Linked DNA regions of Homo sapiens. Each later gene encodes a partner of the first gene's protein in a complex. Each region holds a gene or a part of one and is shown in the gene's direction. Other genes may lie near its edges.

Evidence for each region.
Region 2: TAF5 (region 1) and TAF12 share a complex: the UniProt entries of both Homo sapiens proteins name them as parts of the TFIID basal transcription factor complex.
Region 3: TAF5 (region 1) and TAF3 share a complex: the UniProt entries of both Homo sapiens proteins name them as parts of the TFIID basal transcription factor complex.
Region 4: TAF5 (region 1) and TAF13 share a complex: the UniProt entries of both Homo sapiens proteins name them as parts of the TFIID basal transcription factor complex.

The regions. Positions count from the first base shown.
Region 1 is NC_000010.11:103,363,086-103,370,983, forward strand, and holds the start of TAF5 (transcription initiation factor TFIID subunit 5), read left to right. Parts: upstream 1-4,890; 5' UTR 4,891-4,904; coding exon 4,905-5,463; intron 5,464-7,898. UniProt on the Homo sapiens protein: The TFIID basal transcription factor complex plays a major role in the initiation of RNA polymerase II (Pol II)-dependent transcription.
Region 2 is NC_000001.11:28,633,056-28,640,079, reverse strand, and holds part of TAF12 (transcription initiation factor TFIID subunit 12), read left to right. Parts: intron 1-7,024. UniProt on the Homo sapiens protein: The TFIID basal transcription factor complex plays a major role in the initiation of RNA polymerase II (Pol II)-dependent transcription.
Region 3 is NC_000010.11:7,821,505-7,828,528, forward strand, and holds part of TAF3 (transcription initiation factor TFIID subunit 3), read left to right. Parts: intron 1-2,813; coding exon 2,814-3,056; intron 3,057-7,024. UniProt on the Homo sapiens protein: The TFIID basal transcription factor complex plays a major role in the initiation of RNA polymerase II (Pol II)-dependent transcription.
Region 4 is NC_000001.11:109,073,004-109,080,031, reverse strand, and holds the start of TAF13 (transcription initiation factor TFIID subunit 13), read left to right. Parts: upstream 1-4,028; 5' UTR 4,029-4,084; coding exon 4,085-4,111; intron 4,112-4,966; coding exon 4,967-5,045; intron 5,046-7,028. UniProt on the Homo sapiens protein: The TFIID basal transcription factor complex plays a major role in the initiation of RNA polymerase II (Pol II)-dependent transcription.

The DNA.
Region 1 (7,898 bases):
AAAAGGGAATGGATAGAATAAATTCTGCTTTACTAGATTAGAATTGGAGACATTTAAGGTGAACTTAAGGATAAAGATAAATGGATATAGATAGATATGTACATGTAGATGTATGTACATTTCTCAGCACTATCTGCTGAGAGGGCCTAGAAGCAATTACATACCTCACACTCTGGTCTTGGTTTCTAATACCAATAAAAGGAACTTGCCAGGCACGGTGGCTCATGCCTGTATTCCCAGCACTTTGGGAGGCCAAGGTAGGTGGATCACTTGAGCTCAGGAGTTTGAGACCAGCTTGGGCAACGTGTCAAAACCCCATCTCTACAAAAAACACAAAAGTTAGCCAGGCATGGTGGCACATGCCTGTGGTCTCAGCTACCTGGGAGGCTGAGGTGGGAGGATCACCTGAGCCCAGGGAGGTCGAGGCTGCTGTGAGCCATGAATGTGCCACTGTACTCTAGCCTGGGACAATATAAAGGGAGTGTAGAATGTCTCATTGTGCTAGAAATTAAGAAGGAAGTGCTCAAACAATTATGTGGCCATGTCAAAGAAATACAGGAGCCAGTTTGAAGGAGATCCTAATGATCAAATTTGTGACAATATCAAAATAAAAATGTTGATAGTAACTGTGTGAATAAATAAATAGGGAGACAGAAAATTATTATTTTTTTTGAGACAGAGTCTCCTCTGTCACCCAGGCTGGAGTGCAGTGGCATGATGGCGGCTCACTGCAACCTCGCCTCTTGGGTTCAAATGATTCTCCTCTCAGCCTCCCAAGTAGCTGGGATTACTGGCGTGAGCCACCATGCCAGGCTTTTTTTTTTTTTTTTTTTTAGTAGCGATGGGGTTTCACCATGTTAGCCAGGCTATTCTCAAACTCCTGACATCAAGTGACCCCCACCCCGGCCTCAGCCTCCCAAAGTACAGGGATTACAGGCGTGAGCCACTGTGCCCAACCAAGAGATGGAAAATTTCTTCCTTCCATTAGAAAACCAACTAATAAGTGTAGGAGAAATGATGAAATTAGAAAAGCACCAATTGGTAACCATGGTATTAATAACTGACGCAAAAAAAAAAAATTCAGCAATGGATGCTAAAACTAGTGTGTGAAAGTGTGAGGGGTTATGCCGGGCGCAGTGGCTCACGCCTGTAATCCCAGCACTTTTGGAGGCCGAGGCAGGTGGATCACGAGGTCAGGAGTTTGAGACCAGCCTGGCTAGCATGGTGAAACCCTGTCTCTACTAAAAATACAAAAATTAGCTAGGTATGATGGTGCACGACTGTAGTCCCAGCTACTTGGGAAGCTGAGGCAGGAGAATTGCTTGAACCTGGGAGGCGGAGGTTGCAGTGAGCCGAGATCACACCACTGCACTCCAGCCTGGGCGACAGAGCAAGACTCCGTCTCAAAAAAAAAAAAAAGAAAAAGAAAGTGTGAGGGGTTATAGAATTATTACTATTATTATTTTTTAAACACAGGGTTAACCAGGTGCGGTGGCTCATTCCTGTAATCCCAGGAGTTTGGGAGGCTGAGGCGGGAAGATCACTTAAGGTCAGGAGGTTGAGACCAGCCTGGCCAACATGACAAAACCGCATCTCTACTAAAAATATAAAAATTAGTTGGGCATGGTAGTGCACACCTGTAATCCCAGCTACTCGGGAGGCTGAGGCATGAGAATCACTTGAACCTGGGAGGTGGAATTTGCAGTGAGCTGAGATTGAAAAAAAATTAATTCAGGCCGGGCGCGGTGGCTCACGCCAGTAATCCCAGCACTTTGGGAGGCCGAGGCGGGCGGATCACGAGGTCAGGAGATCGAGACCATCCTGGCTAACACGGTGAAACCCTATCTCTACTGAAAATACAAAAAATTAGCCAGGCATGGTGGTGGGCGCCTGTAGTCTCAGCTACTCGGGAGGCTGAGGCAGGAGAATGGCCTAAATCCAGGAGGTGGAGCTTGCAGTGAGCTGAGATCCGGCCACTGCACTCCAGCCTGGGCGACAGAGTGAGACTCCGTCTCAAAAAAAAAGAAAAAAAAAAAAAGAAAAAAAATTAATTCAGTTAAGATCAATTTAATGGGTCACACTCAGTATTTTATTTTATTTATTTATTTATTTATTTTTTTGAGCTGGAGTCTCGCTCTGTGGCCCAGGCTGGAGTGCAATGGCACAATCTCGGCTCACTGCAACCTTCATCTCAGCTCCTAAAGTGCTGGGATTACAGGCATGAGCCGCCACCCCTATCCCTAGATTAGCTTTGCATTTCAGTCTCGGGATCACTTTTGAACATTATGCTTGCACTTTCTTAATCAAACATTTACAGAACACCTTTTAAAGTGAAGTAGAAATAACCAATGGTTATTTATTACATACTAGGTATTGCATATGCATTACCTCATTTAATTCTCAAAACACTATGACGTAACTACTATTATTTTTTTGTTAGAAATTGGGCAACTGGGGCCAGGCGTGGTGGCTCACGCCTGTAATCCCAGCACTGTGGGAGGCCGAGGCAGGTGGACCACCTAAGTTCGGGAGATCGAGACCAGCCTAACCAACATGGAGAAACCCTGTCTCTACTAAAAATACAAAATTAGCTGGGCCTGATGTGGCACATGCCTGTAATCCCAGCTACTCGGGAGGCTGAGGCAGAATAATTGCTTAAACCTGAGTGGTGGAGGTTGCAGTGAGCCGACATGGCGCCATTGCACTCCAGCCTGGGCAACAAGAGTGAAACTCCGTTTCAAAAAAAAAAAAAAAAAATTAGGCAACTGGGACATAGTAAATTAAGTAACTTGCTCCAGGTTATTCAGCCAGTAAGCAAGGTCAAGCCAGGTGGTCTGTGCCTGTAGTCTCAGCTACTTGGGAGGCTGAGGTGAGAGACTGCTTGAGCCCAGGAGTTCAAGGCCAGCCTAGGCAATATAGTAAGGCTTCAGATCTCTAATTAATAAAATAAAATATTTTTTAAAAGTAAGCAGGGTCAAAGGACGCTGGTAAGACCTCAAAACCAATAACTTGAACGGCTGTGCTAGATTTTCCCAATGTCTCAGGCTCACTTTTCTCGTCTGTACCTATTCCACAGAGTTACAAGTTTCCAATGAGATAAAATATGCAGGAGGGTTTTATAACCTATGAAGCACATTGCAAAATGGCATATATGATTTTTTTTTTTTTTTTTTTTTTTCCTGAGACGGAGTTTTGTTCTTGCTGCCCAGGCTGAAGTGCAATGGTGCGATCTCGGCTCACTGCAACCTCCGCCTCCTGGGTTCAGGTGATTCCTCTGTTTCAGCCTCCCGAGTAGCTGGGATTACAGGTGCCCGCCACCACACCTGGCTAAATTTTTATATTTTTAGTAGAGATGGCGTTTCATCATGTTAGCTAGGCTGGTCTCGAACTCCTGACCTCGGGTGATCCACCCGCCTCGGCCTCCCAAAGTGCTGGGACTACAGGTATGTGCCACTGCGTGTGGCCATGATTTTTAAATATACAATTAAAATGGTTTATTTGTAATAACGGATAATAGCATGAATACATAACGTACATATTTCACAACCACAACATTCTGGTATTTAAAAACTTTTTTTTTGAGACGGAGTCTCGTACTGTCGCGCAGGCTGGAGTGCAGTGGCGGGATCTCGGCTCACTGCAACCTCCGTCTCCCGGGTTCAAGCTCTTCTTCTGTCTCAGCCTCCCGAGTAGCTGGGATTACAGGGGCGCACCACCATGCCTGGCTAATTTTTTGTATTTTTAGTAGAGGCGGGGTTTTGCCGTGTTGGTCAGGCTGGTCTCTAATTCCTGATCTCATGATCCGCCCGCCTCGGCCTCCCAAAGTGCTGGGGTTACAGGCGTGAGCCACCGCACCTGGCGTTAAAAACTTTTTATTGAAATGTAATGTATACGGGCCAGGCGCAGTGGTTCACGCCTGTAATCCCAGCACTTTGGGAGGCTGAGGCCGGTGGATCACCTGAGGTCAGGAGTTGGAGACCAGCCTCGCCAACATGGCGAAACCCTGTCTCTACTGAAAATACAAAAATTAGCCGGGCGTGGTGGCACACGTCTGTAATCCCAGCTACTCGGGAGGCTCAGGCAGGAGAATCGCTTGAACCCAGGAGGCAGAGATTGCAGTGAGCTGAGATCGGGCCACTGCACTCCAGCCTGGGCGACAGAGCGACACTCCGTCTCAAAAGTTAAATAAATAAATAAATGTAATGTAATGCATGCAGCTCGATTAACTTTTACAAAAGTAAAAATGACAAAAAAAAAAAAAAAGTAAGCACTATTCAGGTCAAAATGTAAAACTACCAGTATCTCGGAAGCCTCCCTCTGGCAAATGGTATATGTTTTTGAGTTAAATACGTGGATTCGAATGTTGACATTTGGACTTTCTTCTTGCCTCTGGTAAGTTATTTAACCTCTCTTGGTTTCAACTGAGCCATCTGCGAGGTGGGGATAATATTACCTCATAAGATTATTTAATTGTAGCAGGGCGTGGTGGCGCATGCCTGTAATCCTAGCTACTGGGGAGGCTGAGGCAGGAGAATCGCTTAACAGCCTGGGCGACAAGAGCGAAACTCCGTCTCAAAAAAAAAAAAAAGAAAAAAGAAAAAGATTATTGAATTGAAGGAGATCACATAATGTAAAACATCTATCATAATGCCTAAATATAGCTGGCCTGCAATAAATGGCAATTATTCTCAGGCAAATGTAATAGGTGGTCACCAATGCCCACTTCCTGCCTTTCTTTCGCTCGGTTTTGAAAGTTGCTCTCTTTCCTATTCCGTTTCTCCTTCCTTTTCGCTCCTCCTACTGCCGTAAATGGCCTACTAGAGTTGTCGTGAAATGCTCCTCCCCGCCCTCCATGTGGCGAAAATGCAATCACGCTTGACGGCGCGAGGTGGCTCAGCCGCAAGATGGCGGCGCTGGCGGAGGAGCAGACGGAGGTGGCGGTCAAGCTAGAGCCTGAGGGACCGCCAACGCTGCTACCTCCGCAGGCGGGGGACGGCGCAGGCGAGGGTAGCGGCGGCACTACCAACAACGGCCCCAACGGCGGCGGCGGGAACGTTGCGGCGTCGTCGTCCACTGGCGGGGATGGCGGGACCCCCAAGCCCACGGTGGCTGTCTCCGCCGCTGCCCCGGCGGGGGCGGCCCCGGTGCCCGCCGCTGCTCCGGACGCCGGCGCTCCGCATGACCGACAGACTCTACTGGCCGTGCTGCAGTTCCTACGGCAGAGCAAACTCCGCGAGGCCGAAGAGGCGCTGCGCCGTGAGGCCGGGCTGCTGGAGGAGGCAGTGGCGGGCTCCGGAGCCCCGGGAGAGGTGGACAGCGCCGGCGCTGAGGTGACCAGCGCGCTTCTCAGCCGGGTGACCGCCTCGGCCCCTGGCCCTGCGGCCCCCGACCCTCCGGGCACTGGCGCTTCGGGGGCCACGGTCGTCTCAGGTTCAGCCTCAGGTCCTGCGGCTCCGGGTAAAGGTGAGCCGTGGGGTCCCGGGTAGGTACGGCCGCCGCGAAGGGGAGCAAGCCGGTAAGGCAGGGGCTGGCAGGCCTGCACCTCTGCGGGCTTGTTTTGAATTTCCTGGGCCCGCCTCTAGGGCCACATGCCCGCCCCTTTCTCTAGTGCGCGGGCTGCGCAGTCAAACCCCCTTCCGAGCTGTCAGTTCCAGTGAGAAGCTGAGGAGAGCTGTTGAGCAGAGGGATGTATGGGGAAGGTGAGCGCGGAGAGGCGGGATCTTCACGCTCTTGGTCCCTTTCCTTTCATTTGGGCTTTTGAGCCTTGGGCAGGTCCGCATGACACTAACAGTGTTTGTACAGTTTCGTACTAGCGTACTTTAAGTACTGTAAGTACTTTATTTTCTCTTTATTTCTTTAGTTCCTCTTAAAAGATGTGTTGATAAATACTTTATAGATTTTTTTTTTTTTTGAGACGGAAACTTGCTCTGTTGCCCAGGTTGGAGTGCAGTGGCGCAATCTTGGCTCACTGCAACCTCCGCCTCCCGGGTTCAAGCAATTCTCCTGCCTCAGCCTCCCGCGTAGGTGGGACTACAGGCTCCTACTGCCACGGCCGGCTAATTTTTGTATTTTTAGTAGAGGCGGGCTTTCACCATGTTGGTCAGGCTGGTCTCGAAATCCTGACCTCAGATGATCCACCTGCCTCGGCCTCCTACAGTGCTGGGATTACAGGCGTGAGACACCGCGCCCGGCCGCCATACAATATACCCTTGTAACAGTCCTGCACATCATGTACCCCCTGAATCTCAGCTAAAAGTTGAATTTTTTTTCTTTTTCTTTTTTTCTTTTTTTGAGACGGAGTCTTGCTCTGTCGCCCAGGCTGGAGTACAGTGGCGTGATCTTAGCTCACTGCAACCTCTGCCTCCCAGATTTAAGCGATTCTCCTGCCTCAGCCTCCCGAATAGGTGGGACTACTGGCACGCGCCACCACGCCCGGCTAATTTTTAAAAATATATTTTTAGTAGAGATGGGGTTTCGCCATATTGGTCAGGCTGGTCTTGAATTCCTGACCTCGTGATGCACCCACCTCTGCGTCCCAAAGTGCTGGGATTACAGGCATGAGCCACCGCACCCGGCTGAAATTTTAAAAATATATATGGGCTGAGTACCACCAGTGTTAAGTCTTTGGAGGATGCAGGTTCCTGGGCATCACTTCAGACTTAGTGAATCAGGTCCTCTAGAGGTGGAATCTGGGAATCTTCACTTTTGAATAAGTGCTTCTAAGGAGTATTGACATATGGCAGCTTGAGAGCCATGTGTTTAGGCATGGGCATTGGACAGACCTTTTTGTCTTTGCTGCATTTACTTGTGTGATGCTGATTGTCATTATTTTTTTAGTTTTTAATTTTTTTTACCTTCGTATTGGCCGGGCGTCGTGGCTCATGCCTGTGAATCTCAGCACTTTGGGAGGCTGAGGCGGGTGGATCACCTGAGGTCAGGAGTTTGAGACCAGGCTGGCCGACATGGCGAAACCCCCTTTCTACTAGAAATACAAAAATTAGCCGGGCGTGGTGGCGCATGCCTGTAATCCCAGCTACTTGGGGGGCTGAGGCAGGAGAATCACTTGACCCCGGGAGGCTGAGGTTGCAGTGAGCCAAGATTGCGCCACTGCACTCCAACCTGGGTGATAGAACGAGACTCTGTCTCAAAAAAAAAATTTTTTTTTTACATTAATATTGTCAGGAGGCAGGTCATTCTCATGTTGAATTTTCTCTCTCTATTAAATGAGTGGTTATGAGGCTTTTTTTTTTTTTTTTTTTTGACTGAGTCTCGCTCTGTCGGCCAGGCTGGAGTGCAGTGGTGTGATCTTGGCTCACTGCAACCTCCGCCTCCCAGGTTCAAGCGATTCTCCTGCCTCAGCCTCCCGAGTAGGTGGGACCACAGGCACGTGCCACCATGCCTGGCTAATTTTTTTTGTATTTTTATTAGAGACGGGGTTTCACCGTGGTAGCCAGGATGGTCTCGATCTCCTGACCTTGTGATCCACCCGCCTTGGTCTCCCAAAGTGCTGGGATTACAGGCGTGAGCCACCGTGCCCGGCCACTTGAGGCACTTATAATATCTATATGTAAAATGTTTGGTATGGATAAGTTTATGCCTCTGTGTATGTACCTGAAACCTGAGCCCCTCCTTTCTCCCAGCAACTGTTGTCACAAATCCATGCAGTAAAACTCATATACCGTATAAGGTATCAAAGGTGATCCTGAGCTAACAATAAATGTTTATTGAATTACCCAGTGCAGAGCTTTTAGCCAAATTAGTCTGTATGAGGCCTAATTTTTGCAGCATTGCCAGAAATGAAGTATTCATACATAGCATTGTATTCATACCTCATTGTAATCCGTAAATAGAAATGTGTGCAGATGTGATTGAAGGCCGGGCTCGGTGGCTCACGCCTG
Region 2 (7,024 bases), on another chromosome or scaffold:
CCTGAGATCAGGAGTTCGAGACCCGCCTGGCCAACATGGCAAAACCCCGTCTCTACTAAACATACAAAAATTAGCTGGGCATGGTGGCACATGCCTGTAGTCCCAGCTACTCTGGAGGCTGAGGTGGGAGAGAATCACTTGAATCCTGGAGGTGGAGGTTCAATGAGCCGAGATTGTGTCACTGTACTCCAGCCTGGACAACAGAATGAGACTCTGTCTGAAAAAAAAAAAAAGTAATTTGAAAAACAAGGGCTTAAATTTGATTGATTTTCCAGTTAATTATATCATGAACTAGATGTTTGGGGGAATTGGGCTTAGTTAAAACTACTATTTTTTCCCCAGGGTTAGCCTGTACTATTTGCAAGCGCCTATTATATATAAATGATCAAAACTAACTTATACCAACTTATAAGGGAAAGCATACCGATGCCCATGTCACCACTTCAAAGTACTTGATGGTTTAATTAATGATAATTTATTCCTGAGTTAACATCCTTACCTATACTTGCAAAATGTACTTCATTTCATTTGTGGCTCTAGCGTTGACTTATTATAATAGGACTTCAAAATACCCGATCAGAAAATCATTGCATTATAATTAGAGCCGATAGGAACAAAGGACAAAAGGACATATTACCTTTTTTTTTTTTTTTGTGAGACGGAGTTTCGCTCTTTCACTCTTGTTACCCAGGCTGGAGAGCAGTGGTGCAATCTTGGCTCACTCCAACTTTCACCTCCCGGGTTCAAGCGATTCTCCTGCCTCAGCCTCCCATGTAGCTGGGATTACAGGCATGCGCCACCATGCCTGGCTAATTTTTGTATTTTTAGTAGAGACGGGTTTCACCATGTTGGCCAGGCTTGTCTCGAACTCCTGACCTCAGATGATCTGCCTGCCTCGGCCTCCCAGAAGGTGGGAGGTGGAAGTTGCAGTGAGCCGAGATCACACCACTGCACTCCAGCCTGGGCAATAGAGCAAGATTCTGTCTTAAAAAATTAAAATAGGCCAGCCGGGCGTGGTGGCTCACGCCGGTAATCCCAGCACTTTGGGAGGCCGAGGTGGGCGGATCACGAGGTCAGGAGATCGAGACCACGGTGAAACCCCGTCTCTACTAACAATACAAAAAAAATTAGCTGGGCACGGGCGCCTATAGTCGCAGCTACTTGGGAGGCTGAGGCAGGAGAATGGCGTGAACCCGGGAGGTGGAGCTTGCAGTGAGCAGAGATTGTGCCACTGCACTGCAGCCCGGGTGACAGAGCAAGGCTCTGTCTCAAAAAAAAAAAAAAAAAAAAAATAGGCCAGGTGAGGTGGCTCATGCCTGTAATCCTAGCACTTTGGGAGGCTGATGTGGGCAGATCACCTGAGGTCAGGAGTTCGAGACCAGCCTGGCCAACATGGTAAAACCCCGTCTCTACTAAAAATATAAAAATCAGCTGGACATAGTGGCGTGTGCTTATAATCCCGGCTACCTGGGAGGCTAAGGCAGGACAATCGCTGGAACCCGGGAGGCAGAGGCTGCAGTGAGCCGATATTGCGCCACTCCAGCCTGGGTGACAGAGTGAGACTCTGTCTCAAAAAAAAAAAAAAAAATTAGGCCGGGCGCGGTGGCTTATGCCTGTAATCCCAGCACTTTGGGAGGCCGAGGTGGGCGGATCACCTGAGGTTGGGAGTTCGAGACCAGCCTGACCAACATGGAGAAACCCCATCTCTACTAAAAATACAAAATTAGCTGGGCGTGGTGATGCATGCCTGTAATCACAGCTACTCGGGAGGCTGAGGCAGGAGAATCCTTTGAACCTGAGAGGCGGAGGTTGTGGTGAACTGAGATTGCCCCTTTGCACTCCAGCCTGGGTGACAAGAGTGAGACTCTGTCTCAAAAAATAAAATAAAATAAAATAAAATAAAATACAAAAATTAGCTGGATGTGGTGGCAGACGCCTGTAATCCCAGCTACTCAGGAGGCTGAGGCAGGAGAATCACTTGAACCCAGGAGGCAGAGGTTGCAGTGAGCCGAGATTGTGCCACTGCACTCCAGCCTGAGCGACAGAGCGAGACTCCATCTCCAAAAAAATAATAATAATAATTAAACAAAAAATAGGAATGGGGTCTCACTGCATTACCCAGGCTGGTCTTAAACTCCTATCAGCAAGTGATCCTCCTACATCTGCCTCCCGAAGTGCTGGGATTGTAGGCATGAACCATGACACCTGGCGAAGACATACTACTTTTGGTTGGGATTCTTTATGGAAAGCCCTAAAATATTTTGTAGGCACTATATCAGCAATGTTTACAGGCTGCACTGTGAAACAGGTGTGTTGGAGGCAGACAGACTTTGAAATTTCTGTGTATGGACTTAATTTAAGTCAGACAGGGAGGGTAAAGAGAGCAAAAATAAAAAAAAGAAAATCTTTTTTCTGGAGACGGAGTCTTGCTCTGTCGCCCAGGCTGGAGTGCAGTGGTGTGATCTCGGCTCACTGCAACCTCCGCCTCACGGGTTCAAGCACTTCTCCTACCTCAGCCTCCCGAGTAGCTGGGACTATAAGCGCGCGCCACAATGCCCGGCTATTTTTTGTATTTTTAGTAGAGACAGGGTTTCACCATATTGGTCAGGCTGGTCTTGAACTCCTGACCTCGTGATCCGCCTGCCTCGGCCTCCCAAAGTTCTAGGATTACAGGCGTGAGCCACTGTACCTGGCCTTTACACTGATTTTTAATGCTGAAAGGGACTTTAGAATTTGCCTGGTCTGGCCAGAGGCGGAGGTTGCAGTGAACCAAGATCGTGCCACTGCGCTCGAGCCTGGGTGACAGAGCAAAACTCTGTCTCAAAAAAGAGAAAAAGAAAAAAAGAATTTGCCTGGGCCAACTCCTAATTACAGATGTGGAAACTGACCAAAGATGGCATCCAGCCCTCTTGATTTGGGTTTTCCACAGTAACTCTCATCAGCCTCCTGCTGACCACTTGTTACCATTTTTTTCCAATCCACCATTCTTCTGTTAATCTCTGAAGTCATACAGAACACTTATATGGTGCCAGCACACATGGATATGTGTGTTGGGTTAGCAGCAGGATGAGTGAAATGAAACACTGGTATTTTTTGAGAGATGGGGTCTTGCTTTATTTTCCAGGCTGGAGCATGGTGGCTAGCCACAGGCCTATCACAATGTACTACAGCCTCGCACTCCTAGGCTCAAGCCATTCCGTCACCTCAGACCCCATAGTAGCTGGGATTATACATGTGCTCCACTGCATTGAGCAGTATGTTGATTTTTTTTTTTTCCCTGAGACAGGGTCTTGCTTTGTCACCCACGTTGGAGTGCAGTGGTGCCATCACATCTCACTACTGTATCAACCTCCTGGGCTCAAGTGATCCTCCCGCCTTAACCTCCCAAGTAGCTGGGACCACAGCTGCATGCCACCACGCCTGGCAAATTTTTTGATTTTTTTTTTTTTATTTGTAGTGACCAGATCTCACTATGTTGCCCAGGCTGGTCTCAAACTCCTAGGTTCAAGTGATCCTCCCGCTCAGCCTGCCAAACTGCTAGAATTATAGGTGTGAGCCACCAAGCCCACCCTGTACTTCATTATTAACTTAATTTTTTCAGATGAGAAAATTGAGGCATAAAGAGATTATGTAGCTTGCTCAATACAGCTGAAAAGTGGCACAGTTGGTACTTAAACCCAGATACTGCTACCATGGTTCATATCCTTGACCACTGTACTATACACTATACTACCTTTTGTTGTTGTTAGAGACAGGATCTTTTTGTGTTGCCCAGGCTGGTCTCCAACTCCTAACCTCAAACAGTCCTCCCATGTTGTCCTCCCAAAGTTCTGGGATTACAGACGTGGGGTCCCACATGTGGCCTATACTGCCTTTTTGATAAGTCAAAAGCAGCTGGAGCCTCAACTAACCAATCCTAATTGCACACTGGAAAAAAATCTTGCATTTCTATTGCTCTCGAGTCTCACAGACTGCAAATAATTGATCCTTTTTAGCTTATTTAGGCTGGGAAATATGAGCTCATTTAGATACATTTAGAAGCCAGAGAGGAAAGAAACAGCCAGGTAGAAAAACCAGTCATTAAGTGAAGTCATGCACCACAGTATAGGGCTTTTATGCCATCAGGCCAGTCCTCTTGATTCCAGTATTTTGCTTAAATAATAAATTACTAAACATTTCAGAGGTAAAAAAAGGTTTTGAAGGCTACCTTTTCTTCTGTTCCCCTTTCTCTTCACCTTTGTTTTGTTTTTTTAAAAAAAAAAAAACAGTTAATGGAATAGATGCACAGAGAATACCAGGGTCTTACAACTATTGCCAAGGTCTCCTTAATTCCTACCCTATGAAAAATTAGACCCTCTCAATACAATAATAGGGTTGCAGCTAGACTTCTGTTTGAAGTACAAGGTTGTTAAAGGGAAGCAATTAGGGCTTGTCATCCTCAGCCAGTCAACCACAGTTTAAAAGGAGGGAGGATAGGCCGGGTGCAGTGGCTCATGCCTGTAATCCCAGCACTTTGGGAGGCCGAGGTGGGCAGATCATGAGTTCAGGAGATTGAGACCATCCTGGCTAACACGGTGAAACCCCATGTCTACTAAAAATACAAAAAATTAGCCGGGTGTGGTGGCAGGCGCCTGTAGACCCAGCTACTCAGGAGGCTGAGACAGGAGAATGGTGTGAGCCCAGGAGGTGGAGCTGGCAGTGAGCCAAGATTGCGCCACTGCACTGTAGCCTGGGCGACACTGCACTGTAGCCTGGGCGACACAGTGAGACTCCATCTCAAAAAAAAAAAAAAAAAAAAAAAAAGGAGGGAGGATAGATGTGGTTTTTTTTATTTATTTATTTATTTATTTGAGACGGAGTCTTGCTCTGTCGCCCAGGCTGGAGTGCAGTGGCGCGATCTCGGCTCACTGCAAGCTCCACCTCCCGGGTTCGCGCTATTCTCCTGCTTCAGCCTCCGGAGTAGCTGGGACTACAGGCACCCGCCACCATGCCTGTCTAATTTTTTGTATTTTTTTTTTTAGTAGAGGTGAGGTTTCACCCTGTTAGCCAGGATGGTCTCGATCCTGACCTCGTGATCCGCCTGCCTCGGCCTCCCAAAGTGCTGGGATTACAGGCATGAGCCACCATGCCTGGCCTACTTATTTATTTTTTAGATGGAGTTTTGCTCTTGTTGCCCAGGCTGGAGTGCAATGGCGTGATCTCGGCTCACTGCAACCTCCACCTCCCGGGTTCAAACAATTCTCCTGCCTCAGCTTCCCGAGTAGCTGGGATTACAGGAATACCCCACCATGCCCGGCTAATTTTGTATTTTTAGTAGAAATGGGTTTTCTGCATGTTGGTCGGGCTGGTCTCAAACTTCCGACCTCAGGTGATCTGCCCACCTCGGCCTCCCAAAGTGTTGGGATTACAGGCGTGAGCCACTGCACCTTGCCTAGATGGGTTTATTTAAATTGAACTCTAACCCATACAATCGTGTTTTGATAGAATTACTAAATATTTTCAACAACCAATCACTGGGGGGTGGACTTTCCATATTTACTTTGTGACTCATAGCACACAATTTCTACATAGTAGGTAATAGTAAGGGTTAATTATTATTGTTCTCTCAAACTGTCCCACAGTTAATGCCTGTTTTTTGTGGGGTTTTTTTTTTTTTTTTTTTTTGAGATGGAGTCTCGCTCTGTCGCCCAAGCTGGAGTGCAGTGGTGTGATCTCGGCCTACTGCAACCCCTGCCTCCCGAGTTCAAGCTATTGTCCTGCCTCAGCCTCCTAAATAGCTGAGATTACAGGCAAGCGCCACCACGCCTGGCTAATTTTTTTGTATTTTTAGTAGAGACGGAGTTTCACCATGTTGGTCAGGATGGTCTCGAACTCCTGACCTTGTGATCCACCTGCTTCAGCCTCCCAAAGTGTGGAGATTACAGGCGTGAGCCACTGTGCCCGGCCAGTTAATGCCTGTTTTTGTTTTTGATTTTTATTTATTTTTTATTTATTTGTTTGAGACAGTCTCACTCTGTCATCCAGGCTGGGTTGCAGTGGCGCAATCTCGGCTAACTGCAACCTCCACCTCCTGGGTTCAAGTGATTCTCCTGCCTCAGCCTCCCGAATAGCTGGGATTACAGGCACGCGCCACCACACCTGGCTAATTTTTTTTTTTTTTTTTTTTTGAGATGGAGTTTCGCTTTCATTGCCCAGGCTGGAGTGCGATGGCACAATCTCGGCTCACCGGAACCTCCGCCTCCCGGATTCTAGCGATTCTCCTGCCTCAGCCTCCCGAATAGCTGGGATTACAGGCATGCACCACCATGCCCAGCTAATTTTTGTATTTTTAGTAGAGACGGGGTTTCACCATGTTGGTCAGGCTGGTTTAGAACTCCCAGCCTTAGATGATCTGCCCACCTCGGCCTCCCAAAGTGCTGGGATTACAGGTGTGAGCCAACATACCCGGCTAATTTTTGTATTTTTAGTAGAGACGGGGTTTCACCGTGTTAGCCAAACTGGTCTTGAACTCCTGACCTCAAGTGATCTGCCCGCCTCAGCCTCCCAAAGTGCTGGGATTACAGGCATGAGCCACTGCACCTGGCCCTGTTTTACTTTTTAAAATTTATTTTCGGTTGGATACAGTGTCTCATGCCTGTAATCCCAGCACTTTGGGAGGCTGAGGCGGGTGGATCACCTGAGGTCGGGAATTCAAGACCAGCCTGGCCAACATGACGAAATGCCATCTCTACTAAAAAATGCAAAAATTAGCCCAGCATGGTGGCACGTGCCTGTAATCCCAGCTACTCTGGAGGCTGAGGCAGTAGAATCGCTTGAACCCGGGAGGCAGAGGTTACAGTGAGCCAAGATTGGGCTCCTGTACTCTGGCCTGGGCAACAGAGTGAGATTCTGTCTCAAAAAAAAAAAAAAAAAAAAGTAGGCCGGGCTTGGAGGTGCATGCCCTGTAATCCCAGCACTTTGGGAGGCCGAGGCAGGTGGATCACCTGAGGTCAGGAGTTCGCGACCAGTCTAACATGGTGAAACC
Region 3 (7,024 bases), about 96 Mb from region 1:
GGTGTTTGTTTCTTCTAAAAGAAATGTTCTCAAGTTAAAGCAAGTATTAGAAGTTACCATTAATTCAAATAATGAACAAATAATGAACTTAAGAATTGCCTTAGGGTAACAATGTCTCCAAGCATTCAAGGGCAGATGTCTCTGTCGGTGTCACATTATATGTTAAATATGTTGGCATGTACTGAAAGCAGGTGCTAAATCTTTCAGACTGACTCTTCAACACTAGTACTGTAATATTTTTTTGCATGGTACAGGGAGTAAATGTAAAAGGGATAAGAGGAGAGATGGCTGTAGGCTATAGATTCTGGGGTAGGATTACTTCACAGAAAAGATAAGATTTGAGTTGAGCTGTGAAGTATGGTTGTATAAAGGTATAGAGTATTCCAGCTTAGAGAATCACATAAACTAAGCTGTCCAGGTGAGATTAAGCATAATAAAAGTACCAGTAAGGTGTTCAGCTCCCTATGCAGCTAGTTCATTCCAAGGGTGTCTGAGTAAAATGTTCAACAGAGTGAGATCAGGTTATGGAAGGACTTGAAAGCTAGACAAAAGAATTAAAACATGTAGTAGAAAACATTGCATACTCCTAAGTAGGGGAATAGTATGATTAAAGTGGTATTTTAAGAAAATTGTACTGACAGTGATGTGCATAAGAGATTGAAGTGGGCAGAACTTGAGACTATACTGAGATAGTGACAGTAAGAATAGAGAGAAAGGAAAAAAATCTGAAATCATGGTTAAAAAAAAAAAAAAAAGGTGGCCGAAGGGGACGGGGACAGGGTTAGAAACTACCAGGTTTTGGTTTGAGGCTGCAAAGCATATGGAGGAATTTAAGATTATTATATTTTTTAGACTGAGAGAGTAATAATAGCTTTAATAGGAATAGAAGAGATGAAATGCCTGTTTACATTCAGTAAGAAGAAGAGTATTCGTTTTATTTATTTTCTTTTTTTAATGCATCACAGAAGTAACCCATACTTATAGAAAAAAAAAATCAAAGACTGCAGAAGTATGTGGAGTTAGAAGTCAGTCTCCTGCTTCCACCACAGCCCTCGCCTCTACTGCAGCTTCCACCCCTCGAACTGTTAACCATTGGCTGAATATCCTTCCAGAGGTTTCTGTATGCATTACTACACATGCGTCCAATTCTAGCAATATTTGGATTCTTTTTCATTTTACAGTGTGATTTAATTTCAGACATACTGAGTTTGAAGTGATCAAATTTCAGGATTTCAGTTAAAAAGTCAGGATTTCAGTTAAATCCTTTAGGCTATTGAAAATCAGAAAATGGAATTTTCATAGACATTTTTAAAGATGTAGAGACCTTAAGCTCTGCTAAGAATAGGCATAAGAAAAACTTGCTTTTGTAAAGAAAAAAATCTCTATATCTAACTTTTTATCTCTGTTTTATGTGGTGTTTTCTAATTACATTTGAAAATTTATAGATAAATTATCTTTATGGCTAGGCATGTTGGTGGTGCACTGGTAGTCCCAGCTACTCAGAAGGTGAAGGTAGGAGGATGGCTTGAGCCTGGGAAGGTAAGGTTGCAGTGAGCCATGATTGCCCTTCTGCACTCCAGCCTGGGCAGCAGAGTGAGACCCTGTCTCAAAAAACGAACAAAAACCAAACTTTTATGATCTAAGCCTTCTTTGTAAATATTCTTAGATTTTAAAAATTGATTTAATGGTATAATTCATTCAATAGGTATTTATTGAGTGCCAGCTATGTGCCAGCCACTGTTTAAGATTCTGCAGATGCATCAGGGAACAACAGAGGAAATGTAACCAACATTGACTTTGTCAGCACAGCACACTACTTATTTGATGATTAAAAAAAAAAAAAAGGCCAGGCACATTGGCTCATGCCTGTTATCCCACCACTTTGGGAGGCAGAGGCAGGAGGATTGATTGAGGCCAGGAGTTCAAAACCAGCCTGAGCAACATAGCAAGAACTCATCTCTACAAAATTAAAAAAAAAAAAATTACCCAGGCATGGTGGCATGTGCTTATAGTCCCAGCTACTCAGGAGACTGAGAGGGGAAGATCGCTTGAGCCTAGAAGTTTGAGGCAGCAAGGAGCTGTGATCATACCACTGCACTTCAGCCTGGGCAACAAGCAAGATGCCATCTCTTTTTTTTTTTTTTTTCTGAGATGGAGTCTTGCTCTGTTGCCCAGGCTAGAGTGTAGTGGCACGATCTCGGCTCACTGCAACCTCCGCCTCCTGGGTTTGAGCAGTTCTCCTGCCTCAGTCCCCTGAGTAGCTGGGATTACAGGCCTGCGCCACCACGCCCGGCTAATTTTTGTATTTTTAGTAGAGACGGGGTTTCACCGTGTTGACCAGGTTGGTCTCGAACCCTTGACCTTGTGATCCGCCCACCTCGGCCTCTCAGTGCTGGGATTACAGGCGTGAGCCATCGCGCCCAGCTAAGATGCCATCTCTTAAAAAAAAAAAAAAAGACAAAACACTATTTTATTATTATTATTTTTGGGGCATTTTCTGTGTGTCAGGTGCTGTTCCAGATGCTTTTGATCATCTGTAAACTACTTTGAAATTTGTTCTATAATAGCTAATCATGAATGTGGTTTTTCTGTGGTGTTCTGGCTAGTTGTCTGATTATATTTAAACTTGACTTTAATAATCAGCTTAAACATGATTCTGTGATACTCTTTAAAATCTATTAAATTCTTTCCAATAACTAGGTTAAAATGTTTGATTCTGAGCTGCATATTTACTTACTACTTTTTCTTAATATTTAAAAATATATTCGTGGGATTTCTTCAAATAATTTGATTTGCTTTTCACTTTGTTTCAGATGGCCGAACAGACCCAATTTTGGATGATGTTGGTGAAGCTTTCCAGCTGATGGGGGTTAGTCTACATGAACTAGAAGACTATATTCACAACATTGAGCCTGTCACCTTCCCACACCAAATTCCGTCATTTCCTGTTAGCAAGAACAATGTACTTCAGTTTCCTCAACCTGGAAGTAAAGATGCAGAGGAAAGAAAAGAATACATTCCTGATTACCTGCCACCCATTGTGTCTTCTCAAGAAGGTTTGTGAGTGTTTCTTCTTCATATGTTAGTGATTATTTTAATGGATTTTTAATCCTCTTAGCTTTCCATGCTATGTCAACTTTATAAATTCTGGAAACACAATAGAAACATTTACTGTTACTTACAAATTATTCTAACCCTTAAACCAACAAACTTGCAACTGACATTACCAAGCCGAGTCACGGTGTAATCAAGGTCATGTCTGAAGCATTTATCTCCTTTGTAAAGTTCAAGTAGAGGAAAACAGTGAAGCCAAAGAGAAGCCTTTCAACAGCCCTATTATATGAGAATGGGATATTAGGTAAATTAGAAAACATTTGAAACAAAAAGAAAAATTGGGGTAGCTCTTTTCCTCCTCGCTTATTATTCAGGCCATGAGTTGAATGCCATGGCTTTATACTGGAAACAGTGAGTGAATCGTGAGTATTCAGTGACATTGTGTAGACTTCTGTTTTTTATCATGAGGAGCAATGTTTATTGTTTGATCATATAGAACTTTTGATTATAAAATGATAGCTAATCAGGTATAATGGTCAGTCCAATTGCAGAGTTCCCTTTTTTCCTGCATAATTTTAGATGTTGATCACTAAGTTCACTAAGATTCTAAGGAGATATTTAAGTAATTTCTGGTCTCTAACACAAGTACACGATATTTTTTCTTATAAGAGTTGGAAAAGTTGCAATAAGTTCTTTCATTTTGTAAAAAATTCTAAAACCTGTATACTTCAGGACAATGCAAATGATGCCAGCAATTACTTTTACTTATGATTTTCTATTGTAAAATATACATAACATAAATGGACCATTGTAAAGGTGTGCAGTTCTGTGGCATTAAGTATACATTGTTATTCAGCCATCATCCCCATCCTTCTCCAGAACTTTTGTTCCCTCCCAAATTGAAACACTGTTCCCATTAAACATAACTCCCCATTCTCCACCACTTCCAGCCCCTGGCAACCACCATTCCTTTTTTTGTCTCTCTGAATTTGTCTATTCTAGGTACCTTTTATAAATGGACTTGGACATTATTTGTCTTTTTATGACTGGCTTACTTCACTTAGTATGATGTCTTCAGGGTTCATTCATGTTGTAGCCTGTGTCGGGATTTCGTTGTGTGTTTCGTTGTGTGTTTAAGGCAGAATAATATATGTACATTCCACATTTGTTTATCCATTCACTCACTGATGGACATTTGGGTTGTTTCAACCTTTTGGCTCTTGTGATTAATGCCGCTATGAACATCGATGTGCAAATCTCTGTTCAAATTCTTGCTTTCAGGTGTTTTTTTTTGGGTCTGTACCTTGAAGTAGAATTGCTGGATCATATAGTAATTGTCTATTTAATTTTTGAGGAAGCACCACACTGTTTTCCACAGTGGCTGTACCATCTAAGCTTCCTATCAGCAGTGCCCAAGGGTTCCAATTTCTTGCAATTCATTTCTTAGAATCGGTTCTACTTTAATAGCATTTTGAAGTGTTACCTATTTGTCTCAGGAAGTATGTTTAAATTTGGCATAAGTTGTTGTACAGTCTGTGTGTCAGGGTTGCCTCATCTGAAAAACTGGACAGCTACTGGACCTAAGTGGTAGGGATTTGTTGTGAATTGGTGGCTCATCATTTAGGTGCTCTGGATCTTAGCTGCAGTGGGTTCTACTGAATGATACTAACACACCGACAGCCCAGAACCAAAACTAGGACTTTGATCATAATCTACACTTAACTATTTGGTCCTTCTTGTCTTATTTTTATAGCATGCAAATATTCCATAATAAAATTCTCTTAAAGTGCTATGGTTATCATATTTAAATACTAGCAAGGAAATGTAACTAAGATAACAGGTTTAGATTAGGTAGTGAAGAAGTATGAAAAACAATTTAGTGTTTTTTTTGTTTTGTTTTGTGTTGTTTTGATACTGACTTCTGGCTGAAATTACTATATTACTATAGATTTTTGGGTTTCTTTTCTGGGTTATTTGAAGCAAAAAAAGAAACTCATTTAGTTTTATGCAAACAATATAAATTATAAACATTTTAAAAGGAAAATAACAAATCTTGAGAACACTACTTTTCACTTTTTATCTAACACATGTGGATTAAGAAGGAAAAATATTGCTGATTTGTAATATATGCATATGGTTTATAAGGATGCAGTAAGTGGTAGGCAGTACAGTAAGATGCTTGTCAAAACGTTCTCCTCTTCATAAGAAAAGGATATAAAATGCAATTCTTTGGTTACCATTTAAAAATATAACCATACAAGACCATTTCTTGTCATTTACAATCTGAAATATTTTTTTTTCATGGGTACAGCATGTTAGAAAGTTCCTGGTATTCTGATTAGTGGTGCAAAGTGAGGTACAGAGGTGAACCCCTTTGATAATGATGCTGTTCACCATGCTCTTTATTTTCCTTTTATTTCCTTAAGAGCCACAGACAGGCCAGACTTTGGTCTTAAAATATTATTAGCAAGGTCCTTCCATGGGGTTCCCTCTTATCAGCCACTCAGCTTGGTTCATGTCAAAAAAGCCTGTGAAAGTCTCCCTCCACAGCAGCTGGAGCTGGCGAGTGTGCACACATAGAAGGCCTGAAGGGGCAGCAGGCTGTGAGAGGCACAGCGTGGACCTCACGGCATCACTGAGACATGACTCAGCGAGTCACTGAGTTTCTGGTCTTCCCAAGTCACTTTACCTTTCTGAACTTTATATTCATCTGTAAAATAAGTGTAATAACACCTACCACATTGGGGAAATGGAGAATCAAGTAATTTTTTTTTGTTAACACATTTATATAAAATTGGACAGTGTTTAACATATAAAATACATAACAGTGGGCCAGGTGTGATGGCTTATGCACTTTGGGAGGCTGAAGCTTGAGCCCAGGAGTTTGATACCAGCCTGGGCAACGTCATGAGACCTCATCTCTACTAAAAATAAAAAACTTGGCTGGGCGCAGTGGCTCACGCCTGTAATCCCAGCACTTTGGGAGGCGGAGACGGGCGGATCACGAGGTCAGGAGATCGAGACCATCCTGGCTAACACAGTGAAACCCCGTCTCTACTAAAGATACAAATATTAGCTGGGCGTGGTGGCGGGTGCCTGTAGTCCCAGCTACTCGGGAGGCTGAGGCAGGAGAATGGCGTGAACAGAGGAGGTGGAGCTTGCAGTGAGCCGAGATTGTGCCACTGTACTCCAGCCTGGGTGACGGAGCGAGACTCTGTCTCAAAAAAAAAAAAAAAAACAAAAACAAAAACTTAGCTGGGCATGGTGGTGCACGCTTGTAGTCCCAGCTATCAGAGTCTGTGGTGGGAGGATCAGTTGAGCCCAGGGGTCAAGGCTGCAGTGAGCTATGATCACACCACAGCACTCCAGCCTGAGTGACAGCGAGACCCTGTCTCAAAAAAAAATAAAACACATGACAGCGAATATTAGTTCTCGTCCCCTTTTTCTTTTCTTGCTCTTAAATAATTTACTTTTGAATTGAAATACAATATACATTAGTGAAGTCACGCTATAAGGGGAATCGGTGTCAAGCTGCATTCAGTGGCACACCCATAGTCCTAGCTACTTGGAAGGCCAAGGCAGGAAGATCGCTTGAGCCCAGGAGTTTGAGGCTGTAGTGCGCAATGATTGAGCCTGTGAATGCCCACTGCACTTCAGCCTGGGCAACATAGCAGGACCCTGTCTCTGAAAAAAAGAGACGAATCAATGTAAAGTAGTGTTACCATCACGTGCTGAGGATCTGAGGGAACAGACTTACTAGCTGGGCTGGATAGGTACTTGACTGAGGAGCTGTGTGATTATCCGCAGTGTGAAGATGACAGATGAGGAGATGATGTGGAAGGAGTTATTGCCTGCTTTATCTGATTATATGTTTAGAAGTGAGACCTCTTTGAAAATATTTTATACATGCATATTTTTGCTTGGACTGTTACAGTTCTGATGGCTGGTACCCAGTGTGTTTTATCCAAGA
Region 4 (7,028 bases), on another chromosome or scaffold:
TGCAATTTTTTTTTTTTTTGAGACGGAGGCTTGCTCTGTTGCCCAGGCTGGAGTACAGCGGCGCGATCTCGGCTCACTGCAAGCTCCGCCTCCCGGGTTCATGCCATTCTCCTGCCTCAGCCTCCCAAGTAGGTGGAACTACAGGCGCCCGACACCACGCCCGGCTAATTTTTTGTATTTTTTTTAGTAGAGACAGGGTTTCACTGTGTTAGCCAGGATGGTCTCAATCTCCTGACCTCGTGATCCGCCCGCCTCGGCCTCCCAAAGTGCAGGGATTATAGGCGTGAGCCACCACGCCTGGACTGACACTGCAATTTTTTTTCCCCCACTTTGTGTTTTGGATCTCAGGTTCACAGGATTGAATTATTCACATGCCGCAGCTCATGGCATAGTATTACAATTGGCCCTTCCAAAGTCCTTCACTTTTTATTTATCAATTTATTCCTTTTATCCTTATTCCCATTTCTCCTACACTGCAACTTTCTAGTGTGTTTAATGTTTACGCTTTTTTATATTTTCCTTTAAAATAAGTAGTATTTTTAATTTCTATAAATGGTATTATATTATAGATTTTATTGTTTCTTTTTTAACTTAGCACTGTTTTCAAGTTCTGTCCATGTTGCTAAATCTATTGCTTCTGATTGCTGCATTGTACTCCGTGCTGTGCATCCAGCATATTTTACCTATCTACTCCACTGATAACAGACACTATGAATGTTTTATGCCTGACCTCCTGGACACTGGATCACTACCTAAAAGCAGTTCTCAAACCTATCAGGCTCAACAATCTCCTTTAAATATTAATAACAAATACAGTGTCTCCATTATTGTGTAGTGAAATTCAAAAATAATATAATTTACTGTGGTAGGTGACCTCTCAGAAAGCCCCCAGTGATCTCCCCAGCAATATTCTTGCCCTTATGTAATCCCCTCTCCTTGAACTTGGGCTGCACTTTTTTTTTTTTTTTCTGAGATGGAGTCTTGCTTTGTCGGCCAGGCTGGAGTGCAGTGGCACCATCTCAGCTCACTGCAACCTCCGCCTCCCGGGTTCAAGCAATTCTCCTGTCTCAGCCTCCTGAGTAGCTAGGATTACAGGTGTGCATCACCACACCCGGCTAATTTTTGTATTTTTAGTAGAGACAGGGTTTCACCATGTTGGCCAGGCTGGTCTCAAACTCCTGACCTCCTGATCCGCCCACCTCGGCCTCCCAAAGTGCTGGGATTACAGGTGTGAGCCACTGCGCCCAGCCCTAGCTGCACTTTTTTACTTACTTCTAGTGAATAGAATAGGGCAGAAATTATAGGATGTCACTTCCAAAATTAGGTAACAAAAAACCTGTGATTTCTGTCTTTTGGGTTCTCCCACTTGTGTCCTCTGGAGGAAGGCAACTGGCACATTGTGAGCTGCCCTATGGAGTGGATTACATGGCAAGGAACTGAGGGAGACCTCTGGGCAACATCCATTAAAGAACTGAGGCCCTTAGTCCAACAACCTGGAGGAAGTGAAACCTCCAGCAACCTGTGAGTGACTCTGGCAAATTCTCCTCCATCAACACTTGAGGTATGACTGCAGCCCCAGCCAACATCCCGACTGCAACAGGAGGGACCTTGAGCCACAGGCACCCAGTTAAATTGCACCCACATTGCTGACCCACAGAAACTGTGTGATATTTGTTTTAAGCCACTAAGTTTTGGGGTAATTTGTTACAGCAATAAATAACTAATATATCTACCTACTCACATAATTTTGAAAATAACATAATATCCTAACAGGATCCAGTGATCCAGTGGCCAGGAGGTCAGGCATAAAGGTAATATAAAAGTAAAGTAAAAATAGTAACATTTGTTTCAATATATAAATACTCAGGTATGATGGCACTAGGGGGGGATAATGAAGATTTCAGATGCTTCTACCTATATGTAGAATTGCTTTGAATGCAGACTGATTTGGGTGAGTATTGTCGACCTAAAAGGAAGAAGCTGAGGCAAAATTAATATAAATAGAGAGTTTATTTGGGCCAAACTTGAGGATTACAACTCAGCAGCATAAAGTTGCCTAGAATATACACTCTAAGATTAGCAGCAGGTACAAGTGGATTTTTAAAGGAAAAGAATGAGGACAGGGAGTGGGCTGATACAAAGTTGTCTTTAAGGAGTTCTCATTGGTTCACAAAAATAACATTGATTAGTAATTGGCTAAACATTATCAAGCTATAGGGTGTGCGATATGGTGTCTGATGGGGCATAATTAGGCTAATTTATAACTAATACTTGTGGCAATAGCAAGCGGTTTTAAGACATAAATACATAGCTCAAAAGGGGGCAAGCAGGATGTGATTGCCTCTCATTTTAATGCCTCTTTGGGCCTAATAATTTAACTCACATTCCTCAAATCAAAGTTATTTTTTCATTATTCACTATTCAAATTATTACAAGTGATGTTGCTTTTGGTGACGTTATTTCTTGAAATGGTACACAGCTCTTAATGAATTCCAGACCAAACAAAATACAATTACTATTCAATTTTGGGGTAATAACATTCCTAGAAACTTCAACGTACATTAAAAGTGTGGGAAAATGCTTTGTGTTTATTTTTTTAATTTTTATTTTTTGAGGTGGAGTCCCGCTCTGTCACCAGGCTGGAGTGCAGTGGCACAATCCCGGCTCACTGCAACCTCTGCCTCCCGGGTTCAAGCGATTCTCCTGCCTCAGCCTCCCGAGTAGCTGGGATTACAGGCGTGCGCCACTACGCCCAGCTAATTTTTGTACTTTTAATAGAGACGGGGTTTCATCATGTTGGCCAGGATGGTCTTGATCTCCTGACTTTGTGATCCGCCCACCTCGGCCTCCCAAAGTGCTGGGATTACAGGCGTGAGCCACTGCGCCCGGCCGCTTTGTGTTTATTAACAAAGATAGGTTCAACTCTCAGATAATTAGTTTTCACTCACCGAATGTTCAGCAGGACATTCAGAAATCGTGTGTATTACGGGATTTTCTTTATGTAGCATCATCTGTTACACTGTAGGGACATTTATATTATATCCCTAGCTCTGGCCTTCCGATGCCTGTGGTTTTGCCAGCCATTGTTCTGACCAAAAGCCTTCCCCGGTGGACACGGTGGCTCACACTTGTAATCCCAGCACTTTGGGAGGCAGAGCGGGGCAGATCGCTTGAGGCCATGAGTTCCAGACCAGCCTGGGCAATGTGGGGAAACCCCATCTCTACTAAAAATACAAAAATTAGCTGGGCATTGGTGGTGTGCGCCTGTAATCCCAGCTACTTGGAGGCTGAGGTGGGAGGATGGCTTGAGCCCAGCAGGTCTAGGCTGCAGTGAACCCTGATTGCGCCACTTCACTCCATCCCGGGGGACAGTGAGGTTGTGTCTCAAAAAAACAAAAATAAGGCCGGGCATGGTGGCGCACGCCTGTAATCCCAGCTACTCGGGAGGCTGAGGAAGGAGAATCACTTGAGCCCGGGAGGCAGAGGTTGCAGTGGGCCGGGATCGCGCCACTGCACACTTCAGCCTGGGCGACAGAGTGAGACTTCGTCTCAAAAAAAAAAAAAAAAAAAATCAAAAAACCTTCACAAAATTTTAAATGCTTAGTCTCGGGACACCATCTCTTGGAAATTTGTGATGAAGCACAGTATCCCCAATAATTAACACAGTGCTTAGAAACAGTGGAACTACAAATCTTTAAAATGATTTAAAAGCATATTTGTCTGATAAAGGACTGCTGGCTTGCCCTCCTATGATCCATAGCTTCGCAGTCCCCAAACAAGAAGCTGTGATTCAATACGCAGTAGCAAATTCAGGGTGACAACGAGATACTCGCGACCTAGCCCGTGATTTCCTTTTCTTTGTTAGTTTTCAATTCCTTCGGGATTACAGGGAGGCGCTCCGGCCTCCTCCCTTAGAGACTGTCGCATTTCCGCCGCTAGGCCGGAAAGCACCACCGTCCTCCCGCAGGCCGCAGAGGGCTAGGCCCAGCTACGGCCCCGCGCGTCACCGGAAGTGAGGCGGCGGAAGTAGTGTAACCAGCTGGGAGCCAGCCGGCAGGACGCTGTGAGTTGGCGTGCTAGTGGGATGGCAGATGAGGAAGAAGACCCCACGGTGAGTGACCGTCTCTGTCCAAAACCTGTCTTTTCTTCACTCCTTCGGGCTCAGTAGCGGAGGCAGAGTTCAGGATCGGGTCTGCTTGCCTTAGTGAATTCAGCGGACAGAGTTCGGGGACTTCACGCCCTAAGGATTGATCATTTTAGAAAGTGGGGAAGGACATGAAGGAAGAGTAGGTTTTGTGACCCCTTTCCCCTTGATTTTGGTCTGTATTTGCCAGACACTGAAACACGTACAGAATCATCAGAGATCAAAACTAACATCTATTAGCGCGCACTATGAGCCAACAGTTCAATTGTTAACAAAACTGTACTTACTGTGAAGTAATGGGAAAAGAATGCATTGAAAGTCAGACAGCCTGGATTTCAAAATTTCCATTCTCTCTGAGCAAGTTATTTAACTTTGAACATCAGTTTTCTTTTTATAAAATAGGGTTACGGGCTTACTTAAGGAACGTTTTTAGCACTGTATAAGCAAATGCATAGGAAATATTAGTTTTGCTTACTACAAAGTCTACAAAGGTAGACTTTGATTCAGTATCAACTGTTTAACAGTAACAGTAGTAATAGGCCACCTTAGTTGTTTAAAAATAAAACTTATGGTCATTGGAACTCTTACAAGTAGAAGCAGTAGGATTATTAGTTAGGAACATTGTAGAAGCCATTTTTGCATGAGTTGGAAGTTGGACTAGATACATAGGCTCCTTCAATGCTAAGGTTTCGTGGTTTTTTTTTTTGCTGCTTCCTTTGGCTTTCTGGCCTATCTGTTGAAAAGGAAAAAAAAATGTCATTATTAAAATATCAAATGCAAGGCAATTATTTGACATTTCTATATATACATTTTAACTTCTAGTTTGAGGAAGAAAATGAAGAAATTGGAGGAGGTGCAGAAGGTGGACAGGGTAAAAGAAAGAGACTTTTTTCTAAAGAATGTAAGTAGTATTTGACAATGATTTTGTTATAGATGATGAAAACTTTTGGACATGTCCTTTCAAAGTAGCTTTATTGCTTTGAATGTTTCCCTGTAGGGATAATATTCTCAGACTAGCCTATCAAATTCTGTTTAACTTTTGAATCAGATAGTACCAATCCTAACCCCAATTGTGTGTGTGTGTATAAATTGCTTTTTTTTTTTTTTTGAGACGGAGTCTCGCTCTGTCGCCCAGGCTGGAGTGCAGTGGCGCAATCTCTGCTCACTGCAAGCTCCGCCTCCCGGGTTCATGCCATTCTCCTGCCTCAGCCTCCTGAGTAGCTGGGACTACTGGCGCCGGCCACCACGCCCACCTAATTTTTTTTGTGTGTTTTTATTTTGCTTTATTTTATTTTTTTAATTTTTTTAGTATTTATTGATCATTCTTGGGTGTTTCTCAGAGAGGGGTATTTGGCGGGGTCATAGGACAATAGTGGAGAGAAGGTCAGCAGATAAACATGTGAACAAGGGTCTCTGGTTTTCCTAGGCAGAGGACCCTGCGGCCTTCCTCAGTGTTTTGTGTCCCTGGGTACTTGAGATTAGGGAGTGGTGATGACTCTTAACGAGCATGCTGCCTTCAAGCATCTGTTTAACAAAGCACATCTTGCACCGCCCTTAATCCATTTAACCCTGAGGGGACACAGCACATGTTTCAGAGAGCACGGGGTTGGGGGTAAGGTTATAGATTAATAGCATCCCAAGGCAGAAGAATTTTTCTTAGTACAGAACAAAATGGAGTCTCCTATGTCTACTTCTTTCTACACAGACACAGTAACAATCTGATCTCTCTTTCTTTTCCCCACATTTCCCCGTTTTCTATTCGACAAAACCGCCATCGTCATCATGGCCCGTTCTCAATGAACTGTTGGGTACACCTCCCAGACAGGGTGGCGGCAGGGCAGAGGGGCTCCTTACTTCCCAGATGCGGGCGGCCTGGCGGAGGCGCTCCTCAGTTCCCAGACGGGGTCGTGGCCGGGCAGAGGCGCTCCTCACCTCCCAGACGGGGTGGCGGCCGGGCAGCGGTGCTCCTCACCTCCCAGACGGAGTAGCGGCCGAGCAGAGGCGCTCCTCACATCCCAGACGGGGCGGCCGGGCAGAGGTGCTTCCCCACATCCCAGGGGATGGGCAGCCAGGCAGAGACGCTCCTCAATTCCTAGACGGGGTGGCAGCCGGGCAGAGGCTGCAATCTCAGCACTTTGGGAGGCCAAGGCAGGCAGCTGGGAGGTGGAGGTTGTAGCGAGCCGAGATCACGCCACTGCACTCCAGCCTGGGCAGCATTGAGCACTGAGTGAGCGAGACTCCGTCTGGAATCCCGGCACCTCGGGAGGCCGAGGCGGGCAGATCACTCGAGGTCAGGAGCGGAGACCAGCCCGGCCAACACGGCGAAACCCCGTCTCCACCAAAAAATACAAAAACCAGTCAGGCGTGGCGGCGCACGCCTGTAGTCAGGCAGGGAGGCTGCAACGATCCCAGATCGCTGCAGTACAGTCCAGCCTCGGCAACAGAGGGAGACGGTGGAAAGCGGGAGACGCAGACGAGGGGGAGGGGGAGGGAGAGCTTTTTTTGTATTTTTTGTAGAGACGGGGTTTCACTGTGTTAGCCAGGATGATCTCGATCTCCTGACCTTGTGATCCGCCTGCCTCGGCCTCCCAAAGTGCTGGGATTACAGGCGTGAGCCACTGCACCCGGCCTATAAATTGCTTTTTAAGTGAGCAAATGTAATTAGTGTTTTAATTTAGGGCAGAAGAACATACCTCCATTAGTTTTCCTCTTGCCTTTACAGCAGTAGAGAGGCTTCTTTGACTGTAAGCCACAGGTAATAATGGATCCTGCAACAGGTGTTGAGGGAGAGTAGCAAGTGAGTTGGGGCTTGGGCTTTGGACTAAGGCCCTGAACAAAGTAAGAAGGTGGTGAACAGCTGGGTGCAGTGGCTCACGTCTGTAAT